Linked DNA regions of Homo sapiens: regions 1, 3 and 4 are each linked to region 2. The links come from fine-mapping of genetic effects on gene expression. A gene starts in region 2. Each other region holds a variant in brackets. All regions are shown on one strand. Distances are from middle to middle.

Region 1 (2,642 bases), 28 kb after region 2:
CCTCTTGGATCTGGTTTCTTGACTTTTACAACATGATTAAGCCTTGCACAGTCCTTCTTTGCCTTCCTAACTCCTATCAAGGTCCAAGTTGCTAGTTGCTGTCGCCAGGATGGATGGCCACCCTTATCTCTTGCCATTCTCCACATTCCAGACCTCCGGCCTCCTTCAGTTTCTTGCAGACACCATGCTGTTCCCATTCCCCTCTTATCTGGACACAGGCTCTGCTGCCTGCTTGGGACTCAGTATTTTCCTCCCCTCCCCCAATTTCCTATTCATGCTTTGGACTTCTGTTTAGATAGTACTCCTCTGGAAGTTTCCTGTGACTCTCCCTCTAATACATGGTCTGGCGCCATTCTTCCCTGCTGAGTTCCATGGCGACTGGACCATTCCCACCCTGGCACTGACTTTTCTGGAACGGGCTGTAATACCTACCTCACCCACCAGGCTGTAAGTGCCCTGGAGACAGGGCCACGCCCAAGGCCCAGCACCAGGTCTGGCATGTGGTAAATAAATAAATAAATTTGCACTCAGTGTTTAACATTGACAGCATCATTTGGACTGAAGCTGTCAGAGATGGCTGGACATTCTTCCCCAGATAGAGGTTTGGTCAGTGTTGAATCTATGTCTCTGATTAAAGTCCTGAGCTTTGACAACATGCTGTCCAGAGGTCCTGGACAAAGCTTTTTAATCTATACCGTGCTATGCAATATAGTAGTTGCTAGCCATGTTAATTAAAAAATTTTAAATATAATGAATTAATTTTTTTTTTTTTTGAGACAGTGTCTCACTCTGTCACCCAGGCTGCAGTGCAGTGGCACGATCTCGGCTCACTGCAACCTCTGCCTCCTGATTCAAATGATTGTCCTGCCTCAGCCTCCTGAGTAGCTGGGATTACAGGTGTCCCCCACTATGCCCGGCTAATTTTTGTATTTTTAGTAGAGACGGGCTTAATTTCCAAAGGGTCCATCCTACCGATATCTCCCCCACAGTGCACAGCATGTTGTGCACATACACAGTAGGTGCTCAGAAACTTTGCGTTGTTGTTGCTTACTAAGCTTTTTTTTTTTTTTTTTTTGAGACAGAGTCGTGCTCTGTCACCCAGGCTGGAGTGCAGTGGCATGATCTTGGCTCACCACAAGCTCTGTCTCCTGGGTTCAAGAGATTCTTGTGCCCCAGCCTCCTGAGTGGCTGGGACAGCAGGTACCTGCTACCACGCCTGGCTAATTTTTGTATTTTTAGTAGAGATGGGGTTTTGCCATGTTGGCCAGGCTGGTCTCCAACTCCTGACCTCAAGTGATGGGCCTGCCTCGGCCTCCCAAAGTGCTGGGATTACAGGCGTGAGCTACCACACCCGAGATGATTAAAATTAAATAAACTAAAAACTCCTTTCCTCAGTCACACCGGCCAGTTTTAAGTGCTCAGTAGCCACACGTGGCTGGTGGCCGCCACACTGCACTGTGCAGAGCACAGGA[C/T]GTTTCCGCCGTGGCAGGAAGCTGTTTTGGGCGGTGCTGCTCTAGACACTGTCTTGTAAAGGTGCTACTTTAGGGGTCTGTACGTTGGGTAAAGTCCTTTGTTGATGTTTCTGTCTAGGTCCAGTAGGTGTTTGCAGATCCCTTCTTAAGCCTCAACTGTGTTTCCTCGGTTTCCCCTGGCTGCAGGATGCTCGTCAGAAGTTCCGCTCTGTTCTGGTTGAAGCAACGGTGAAACTGGATGAACTGGTGAAGAAAATTGGCAAAGCTGTGGAAGACTCCAAGCCCTACTGGGAGGCACGGAGGGTGGCGAGGCAGGTAAGATAGCCCCATAGATGTCTCCCCTACCTCGAGCCTCACTACCCCTCAGTTTTAAGGGTGCCTTTGACTGTATCACCTGCTGAAGGTTAGAAGCTCGAGTCCAATATGTCTTAAATGCAGTGACCCACCGCCCCGCAATCTGCTTCATTCCAGTGCTCGACACTATTAATAGGGTGTGAGTGCTGGCATTTGGATGACCCTGCAAGTGGGTGCTCTCCCTGAGTTGGTGCTGAGTGCACTTAAGGGGACGTGTCCAGAGGGTGTTCCTCCTCCGCTCCTAATGACAACCTGTCAGACAGCAGTAGGAAGATTCGCTTACTGCCTCGCGTTCGCCTCACTCTTGGGAGTGTTTAGCCTTCTGCTTCTCTTGAAACATCGGTTCTTCTTCTTTTTCTTTTTTTTTTTTTCCTTTTTAAGATTTGGCAGGTGAGTTGTTATACACTCCTTAGCGGATTCTGACTTCCGTGGCCATCGTCCTGCTGAAACTTTGGTTCTTTGTCCTGAGAGCCCAAATAAGAAGCAGTGAAACGGAGACCAGAAGGGGAGTGGCGGAGGGGACTGTGATCAGGCGATTGCTGGGGGCTGCGTGGAAATGGGTTCTGGTTTAGGAGTTGGTCTTCCTTTGGCTGCTGTGTGACGCGATGTGCCACTTGTGTCACCTGCAGCCTCTGATAGCCAGGCCCTGTGAATGGGGAAGGTAAAGAGCCCTCAACAGTTACTAGTACCTGCTGTGTGGCAGGCTCTGGGCTGGGGGCTTTATTCACCTTCCTCAGCCTGCTTCGGCTTCCCGATTAGAGAGCTAATGTGAATCACCAACCCTGTGATGCCTCTTGAGATGAGAGTTCAGATTTC
Region 2 (2,642 bases):
AGGAGACAGGACAAATTTCCTTTGACAGTGGACTACAGTGCCAGCGTGTATGGGGTGGTGCCTTGCCCAAGGAGTAACCCTCTAGCCTAGTTTCTGATAAAACCACCAGGAGCAGGACTATTTATTCATTTGAGAAGGGGTCTGGCTGTATTGTCCAGGCTGGTGTTGAACTCCTGGCCTCAAGTGATCCTTGTGTCCTGGCATCTCAAAGAGCTGGGATTACAGATACGAGCCACCACGTTGTGCCAGACCCAGGTTTTGTAAGGTGGCTTTGATGATAGGTTCTCAGAAAGAAGCTCCTTTCTCAAGCAAATTTGTCCTCCAAACTCAGAGCCGATGGGCTACAGGCCTCCGTGTAGGACATGTGCACGTTCTGCATTTCTCAAGGCAAGGAGACGTGAGCAGCCATGTGCTCATCTGCTTTGCCAAGGTCATCCTTTGCGTTCCCCTGACATCACAGTGGCCCTGACATTTCATAAAAGCACACACACGTGCCTCTTCAGTTTGGCCTTTTCGGATGCTGTGTCTGCCAGGCCAACTCTGTCTCCCTACTTGTTGATGGTGGGCAGAAAGTCTCACTAATTCATAAATTCTTGGCCAGAGTGTGCCCATCAACAGGGGTTACACTTGCCACCTCCTTAAATCCCAGCTCAATGCATTCTCCATGCTCCTGGCTATTCAGGTAGGACCGCCGCACCTCTGTGTTTCGGTATGGGGCTCGCCCAGAGAGGCCGCAGCCTTCGGCAATGCATCAGTGCACGGAACCTCCGCCATTCCCAAGGTTCGCTCAAGAGGATGAGTGTGCTTTGGGTATAGGGTTTCGGCAAGTCTTGGTCCTGAGGGCCAGGGTCACTGAGCGTAGGCTTCAGAAGGCGACTTCAGTGTGAAAACACCCACGCCTCCCTACCACACAAACAACGAGCCTCGGAGGAGGGCTGGAGGAGGGGACTCCCGAAAGCGGGAGGCTTGCGTTACGTAGTTGAGATATATCCGAGCTGCTAAGTTACAAGGGGGTGGGGGCTGTCCTATTTTGCCACCTTGGAGATGTGGAGGGAGCTGGGGTTTTGCGACGGAGACCTGGATAGCTGGGACTGGCGGCGGAACGCGAGGCCGGGGCGGGACGGGGGCGGAGCGGGCGCTGCGCTGACTGCCGCGGCAGAAAGGGGGCGGCCGCGCCCATTTCCTCTGCTCCGCCGCGGCCGGAGGTATCCGCATCGGCGAGCTGCGTCTCCCGGGTGTCGGCCCCGGCGGCTCCCCGACCGTGCCCGGCTGTGGCGAGGCGGCTCCAGCCCAGCCTGTGGCAGCCGCGACCCCCGGGGCGCTCCGGAGCCCACTGCGCGGCGCGCGTGCCGGCTGCCTGCATGGACGCGGCACTGAAGCGGAGCCGCTCGGAGGAGCCAGCCGAAATCCTGCCGCCTGCCCGGGACGAGGAGGAGGAGGAGGAAGAGGGGATGGAGCAGGGGCTGGAGGAGGAAGAAGAGGTGGATCCCCGGATCCAGGTAGGGCGCGCGGGGTCGCCCCGCATCCGGGCTTCGCGAGGGCTGCTACGGAGGTCGGTGTCTACGCGTACAGCCACTTCGCAGCCCCCAGTAACTGTGGTCCGGGGACTGGCGGCCACATAGGGTGGCAGGAGACGGTCTGTATGCTCCGTTTCATCGTCTCCACAATGAGGAGGCTACAGTGCCCGCGTGGATGCGGCCTGACTCTATTGCGGGGAGTCCCCCGCCGACCCGTAGCAGGATCGGGGTCGGTGCAGCGTGCCTGGTGGTTCGGGTGGATGTGCAACAAAGGGAAAAAGGGGGCGGGGGCGCCATGGTATCCTCGGGGGTACCCCTGCCCGGCCGCGGCACCGCGGGCATGGCACGGCGTCCAGGCTCTGCGAGGAGGTGTCGCCCGCGTGGGCGCCGGGCACCGTGGGCGGGTGGGCGTTGCCCTGCAGCGCGGGCTGGCACCGGTGCCCCGGGTGCAGAGTCCTCACTTGCCAAGGTGCCCGGCCTGAGCCGTTTTCCTTCTCTGATTGATTGTTAGCGAACTGAGCGGCTTATTGTCATCACTGGCTCAACGTTCTGCCTGGCTTGAAATTGCTTAAAACCCTGCTTTTCCTTGTTGTGAGGTTGGGCATGAAAAGAAATCGGGGACAACTGATGCGCAAAGCTGACGCGTGGAGGCGGCGAGGGGATTGGGCTGGCTGGCTGTGCCTCCATTTCCAAGAGAGATGATTAAAAAACAATTTCCAAGCCGAGATCTAGGAGTGACAGTTTCACCTCTTCACCCCTAAGCAAAAAGCAGAGCAAATCCCTTTCTAAGGCCCGTTTTTTTTCTACCTTTTCAATAAATCATTTTTTTAAAAAAATTGCTTTTAAGCATGCTCTGTAATTTCTGGATACCTAATTGGTTTTTTAGTGCACAGATCAATTTAAAAGCTCACTTAACTCAGTGGTTGGGGTTTAAATGAATTGTTTTGTCAGCTTAGCAAGATAAAGATCAGGTGGAAAAAAAATCCTTGCATTAGGAATGCTATTAATTAAAGTAATTGGTTTGGAATAAATCGTGTGTTACTGGTATGGGATTATGTTAGCAAGATCCTTTGTTTGCATAGTAATGATGAGTTAAGTTCATGTTGGATACTTTTTTTACAAAAT
Region 3 (2,642 bases), 74 kb after region 2:
CTGCCATTCAGTCACCTTCTCTGTTGTACTAGGCCAGTGGTTCTCACAGCATGCTCTTAGGACCAGCAGCATCAGCATCACCTGGAGACCTGATAGACCAGGTCCCACTCTAGACCGACTGAATTAGAAACTCTGAGGTTGGAGTCTAGTGAGCTGAGTCTTAACACCCAAGGGGATTTTGATGCAAGCTCAACTTTGAGAACCACTGTACTGGGAACCAGATGTCTAGACTGTGGGACTTTGGTGTGTCTGATGCCCATTTTTGCTTCCCTGATGGGGTTTGTTCCACCAGTGAGAGTTTTTGGATATTAGAGGTTGTCACCTGGATGGGATCTGGGGATGGTGGTGGCTGATTTTGTCTGGTGAATGAATAGCAGTTACAATGGTAATTAGGTCTTCAGTCATGTCTTGGAAAATTCCTTGAAGTAGAATGATGGGCAGAAAATGTACTTGAACCTGTCATTCAGAAAGCATCTTAAGGCTAGCAGGGTAGTCTTCACTTAGTCTCCTGTTCTCTTGATCAGCAACTGAAAAAGACTGTGGATGACCTGCAGGCCAAACTGACCCTGGCAAAAGGCGAGTACAAGATGGCCCTGAAGAACCTGGAGATGATCTCAGATGAGATCCACGAGCGGCGGCGCTCCAGTGCCATGGGGCCTCGGGGATGCGGTGTTGGTGCTGAGGGCAGCAGCACATCTGTGGAGGATCTGCCAGGGAGCAAACCTGAGCCTGATGCCATTTCTGGTAAGTCAGGGGCTCCACTGGGTATGTGGGGAGATATCAGACTGTGTGATTTGTTTCCCAAGGTCCTCACTTTCTCTGGCCATCAGTGAAAGGTCTCAGAGTTGGGCAGGCCTGAGGGCTATTTCTGGTGGGTTCCCATGTTTTATGGAACACTGTGTTCATTAAGAAGGTACTAAGTGTTCCTCAAAGTCAGGATTCTGTGGTCAAATAAATTGGGAAAATGTTACACCTTCACTCCTCTTTGAGAGTCAAAGTATACATTTGAACATTCAAGGCTGAGAAGTCCTGCAGGAAAGAAGAGCTGTAATCAGATTTGATTCAAAGCTACCTTTACATCATTACTAAGGCATGATGTGGGCAAGGGCCTAACTTTGTATTTCAGTTTCTTCACCTGTAAAATGGGGAGTATGACGCTATCTACTGTATACTATCCGTTGTGTAGGGTGGTGGTTCAGCTTACATGAATCAACCCCTGACACCCAAGAAGCACTCAGCAAATGGTGGCTCTTACTGACATCTGACCATAGAGACCTCTTTTCCCAGGGCCTCCCCCTGGAAAACTGATAGAAGTTTGACTTGGTTTCTGTCATGCTCATCAAGAAAACCCACCCAACGCTGTCTTTGCATACTTCCTTTCTTTTCCTTACCTGTGCAATAATCCCTGTCGGCTCTTTCCCAAGCTCCTTCCTCAGGAGTTAATTCCTTCAACAAATATTTAAGTACTAGGTTCAAGGTAAAGGAAAAGGAAACTATCATTTGAACAACTACTATGTATGAGGTACTTTAATATATACATCATCTCAAACCCTGCATGGAGAGGATCATGAAGCTTACAGAGGTAAAGTAACTTGACCAAGGTCACACAGCAAGTAGTGGAGTTAGGGATTCAATTCAGGTCTG[A/G]GCCCATTTTCTGTCCCCAACATTACAGTATTTATCATTTATAAGAAACCTTTATGGAATGCTACAAGGCTGTTTTTAAAGAGAAAGGGGGGGAAAAATGGAGTAGGAAAGTTCTAATAAGGAGTGGGATTGTGGGCAGGCTGAGGGAAAACCGCTAAAGGCCAAAGAGGCTTTGAAACCATGGGAATAACATGTGTCTGGGCCTTGTTACTTTGGTCTACCAAATAATGTGGCTACAGAGCATTGTAAAGGATTTCTGTTCTTTTGCAGCAAATGGTGATGTGGGTAGCCTTTGAGTGTGTTCTTTATGAGATCAGAAGTTACCTGGAGATAACAAAGGTCCCAACAGATGTTCCATGCTGGCCTGTTTCTTCTAGCAGCTCTTGCTTCTATTGCCCTAAGAAAGAAGCCTGAGTCCAGCTGGCTTTGTTTGGGATATGTTACAGAGGACTAGAACCTCTTCCTGTGCACATGAGGATGTATTTGGGGGACTGAGGTGGAGTAAAGGTCCTAATTTGTGGCTGAATTAATCTTCCATTTTTAGGTGGTGTCTGGTGACACTGATTTCTTGGCAGGGTTATAAGGTTATTGGAAGGGCGCTTAATATCCATGGGATCCTGCTGCCAGCTGCTTCCCTTCCAGCTGCTTTAGAGGCTGGTCATTCAGGCTTGGGAAGTCACATTCCTTCATTAGGCACTCACAGAGGTAGAGACTCTTTAGTCCCCCATGCTGTGTCTAGCTGCCTGCCAGCAGCAAGCACTTGTGGTGTTTGAGGAGGTGACAGAACCCATGTGACTGGTGTTCTCTCTCAACTTAGTGGCCTCGGAGGCCTTTGAAGATGACAGCTGTAGCAACTTTGTGTCTGAAGATGACTCGGAAACCCAGTCCGTGTCCAGCTTTAGTTCAGGACCAACAAGCCCGTCTGAGATGCCTGACCAGTTCCCTGCGGTTGTGAGGCCTGGCAGCCTGGATCTGCCCAGCCCTGTGTCCCTGTCAGA
Region 4 (2,500 bases), 110 kb after region 2:
ATCACTCAAAACAGTGATTTATACTTATATTATCTCAGTATGTTTCAGTCAAAATGTGTAGAATGAACAATTTTTCCAATTACACTTCTGTACCTGAATATATAATAAAAAATCTAAGAAAAAACTCAAATCTATACACAAATTACTTTAAAATGCTGACTTTTCTATAAAATCATACAAAATAAATGCTCACCTGCTTTATGCTAAAACTGGACACAGTATATATCATTGTAGGATTGTTGGTGAGGTCTTCTGGTCGTACCCACTTGGAAAATGTAGTTTTTTGTTTAGGTGATAATGGTAGCTTGCCCCATCTATCACTGAGGTAATAATAAAAATTAAAATAAAAAAATTAATCTTAAAAGATGACTCAAAGCCAAAATTAAATTTCCTAGAGATTTTTTTTTTGGTCTAGTGATTATAGCAGTACTGTATTATCTTAAAATAACCTTCTGGTCAAATCTGGCTCTTTATAGAGTCCAGTCAACCTGATCATCCCCTCCAATTAAAAAATATACCTAAATAATTGAAAACAGAAGAACAACTTAAATTCATTTATATTTAAGAATATAATTTTTTAAATTTAGCATAACTGTATTCAAGAAATTCAGCAATAAAATGAAACCATTAACAATAGTACAAGCTGATTCATTCAAAAGGACCTAGGAAGCTAAAGATTCAAAGCTGGTTTTTTACAAACTCCACTTGGCAAGGCTAATAATGAGTGTAGCTAATTTAGTGAATACTAACCATGTGCCAGGCATCATGCTAAAGTGCTTTACATACATAATCCACTTAATTCTTAAAACAACTCTATTAAAGGAATTATTTTTGGAAATAGCTTAAAGTGATTAATGACTTACCAAGGTCAGACACCTAAGAAACAGCAGAACTGGCATCTGAATCCAGGTCTCTGGTGCCAAATCCACCATTCTTATCCATTACCCTCTACTCACTGTGTGTAACAATGTTTCTCTAAAATTGATGTGTACACCAAGGGGAAACATCTACCTTTCCCCCTTTCCCTAAACTTTTTTTTTTTTTTTTTTAACAGTTGAGGTCTCCATATGTTGCCCAGGCTGCTCTAGAACCTCTGTGCTTAAACGATCCTCCAGCCAAGGCTGATACCAGCCTTCCTGAAGTAAATACCAGAGTGCTGGTATTACAGACACAAGCCACCAGGCCCAACCATCCCCAAACCCTTTCTAGAGCAGAAGCAACAAATCCTTGGTTTTCAAAAGATTTCCTAGTAA[T/C]AGAAAGTATATAATATGCAAACTGGCACAAACATAACTTTTTTTTTTTTCAAAGAATGCTGACAGATACTGGGAGAAGAGAGGATTTTGTGGTCAAGTATGATCTACAAACTCCTGGTTAAAGTATTAGTTTTTTCATTGAAGGACACCTCTAGACTTTAAATAAGCCAATGTTTATTGCAATCTCTTAAAATAGAATATGGCATATAACATATCTCAAACATTTTTTATTATCATCTCACAGAACCACTAGTATTCCAGGTAGCATTTTGGTACCTGTATAATACCAGGAGCTAACTGTAAACAGAAAGTGAGCTAATTGAATTCAGAAGAGTTTAAAGACAGCTCTCAAAAATTTTGAGGAGAAAAAATTAATGCAAATTCAAATTCGTAATCTATTATTAACCTGTCATATGAACCATATTTCAGCATAAATCCAAGATTCCATAATATTTGTTCTCTCAAGTCACTAGAGGATTATTAAATTCAAGGTTTTTTCCCTCAGAACTTAAATATATTAAAAATATTTTACAGCCAGGCGCGGTGGCTCATGCCTGTAATCCCAGCACTTTGGGAGGCTGAGGCGGGCGGATCACTTGAGGTCAGGAGTTTGAGACCAGCCTAGACAACATGGTGAAACCCAGTCTCTACCCAAAATACAAAATTAGTCGGGCGTGTGGTGGGCGCCTGTAATCCCAGTTCCTTGGGAGGCTGAGGCAGAAGAATCTCTTGAATCTGGGAGACGGAGGTTGCAGTGAGCTGAGATCGCACCACTGCACTCTAGCCTGAGTGACAGAGTGAGACTCCATCTCAAAAAATAAAAAATAAAAAAACTTACAATTATAATATTTATTCAATAATGCTTATTTTATTATTTTAAAAGTAATACACGACCGAATAGAAACAATTTTAAAAAATAATTCAATCTCTCTAGCGAAAGATAAATTCTGGAGCCTTTTCCTGATGATCTGTTAACCCAACTTAAAAACATTTACTGTTGCTTTTTCTTCTGATTGTTCCTAAAGTAAAATAATTTAAAAAATAAGAAAATACCGTGCCACTTAGAATAGTAACTTTAGTATTTATTCTTGTTTTTCTCCCAATTTAACTACTTCAAGAAATATTTATTGAATACCTACTATACACCAGATACTGTGGTAGGCACTGGGGTGCAACTTAATTAAAACAGACATGGTCTCTGTCCTTATGAAGTTTATATGCTAGAGTAGCAGACAAGCATTAAGCAA

Evidence for each region. PIP is the estimated chance that this variant, and not a neighbour inherited with it, causes the effect.
Region 1: its variant is fine-mapped to the expression of SH3BP5 in whole blood (TOPMed, PIP 0.99). The same link has a PIP of 0.9 or more in blood mononuclear cells.
Region 3: its variant is fine-mapped to the expression of SH3BP5 in whole blood (TOPMed, PIP 0.95). The same link has a PIP of 0.9 or more in blood mononuclear cells.
Region 4: its variant is fine-mapped to the expression of SH3BP5 in fibroblasts (GENCORD, PIP 0.95).

What each region holds. Positions count from the first base shown.
Region 1 is chr3:15,303,248-15,305,889 of GRCh38, reverse strand. SH3BP5 (SH3 domain binding protein 5) reads left to right here. Exons shown (of 9, transcript NM_004844.5): 3 at 1,659-1,787. Among named protein-coding and RNA genes, the nearest start is that of SH3BP5, 28 kb to the left of the region's middle. The variant C/T (reference allele first, on the strand shown) is at 1,473.
Region 2 is chr3:15,331,128-15,333,769 of GRCh38, reverse strand. It overlaps SH3BP5 (SH3 domain binding protein 5), which reads left to right and starts at 1,184. Exons shown (of 9, transcript NM_004844.5): 1 at 1,184-1,499. The coding sequence starts at 1,362. RefSeq lists silencers at 1,076-1,475, 1,556-1,615.
Region 3 is chr3:15,256,933-15,259,574 of GRCh38, reverse strand. SH3BP5 (SH3 domain binding protein 5) reads left to right here. Exons shown (of 9, transcript NM_004844.5): 7 at 525-744; 8 at 2,462-2,642. SH3BP5-AS1 (SH3BP5 antisense RNA 1) reads right to left here. Exons shown (of 3, transcript NR_046084.1): 1 at 1,969-2,642; 2 at 1-941. Among named protein-coding and RNA genes, the nearest start is that of SH3BP5-AS1, 4.1 kb to the right of the region's middle. The variant A/G (reference allele first, on the strand shown) is at 1,645.
Region 4 is chr3:15,225,659-15,228,158 of GRCh38, reverse strand. CAPN7 (calpain 7) reads right to left here. Exons shown (of 21, transcript NM_014296.3): 7 at 194-320. Among named protein-coding and RNA genes, the nearest start is that of CAPN7, 21 kb to the right of the region's middle. The variant T/C (reference allele first, on the strand shown) is at 1,254.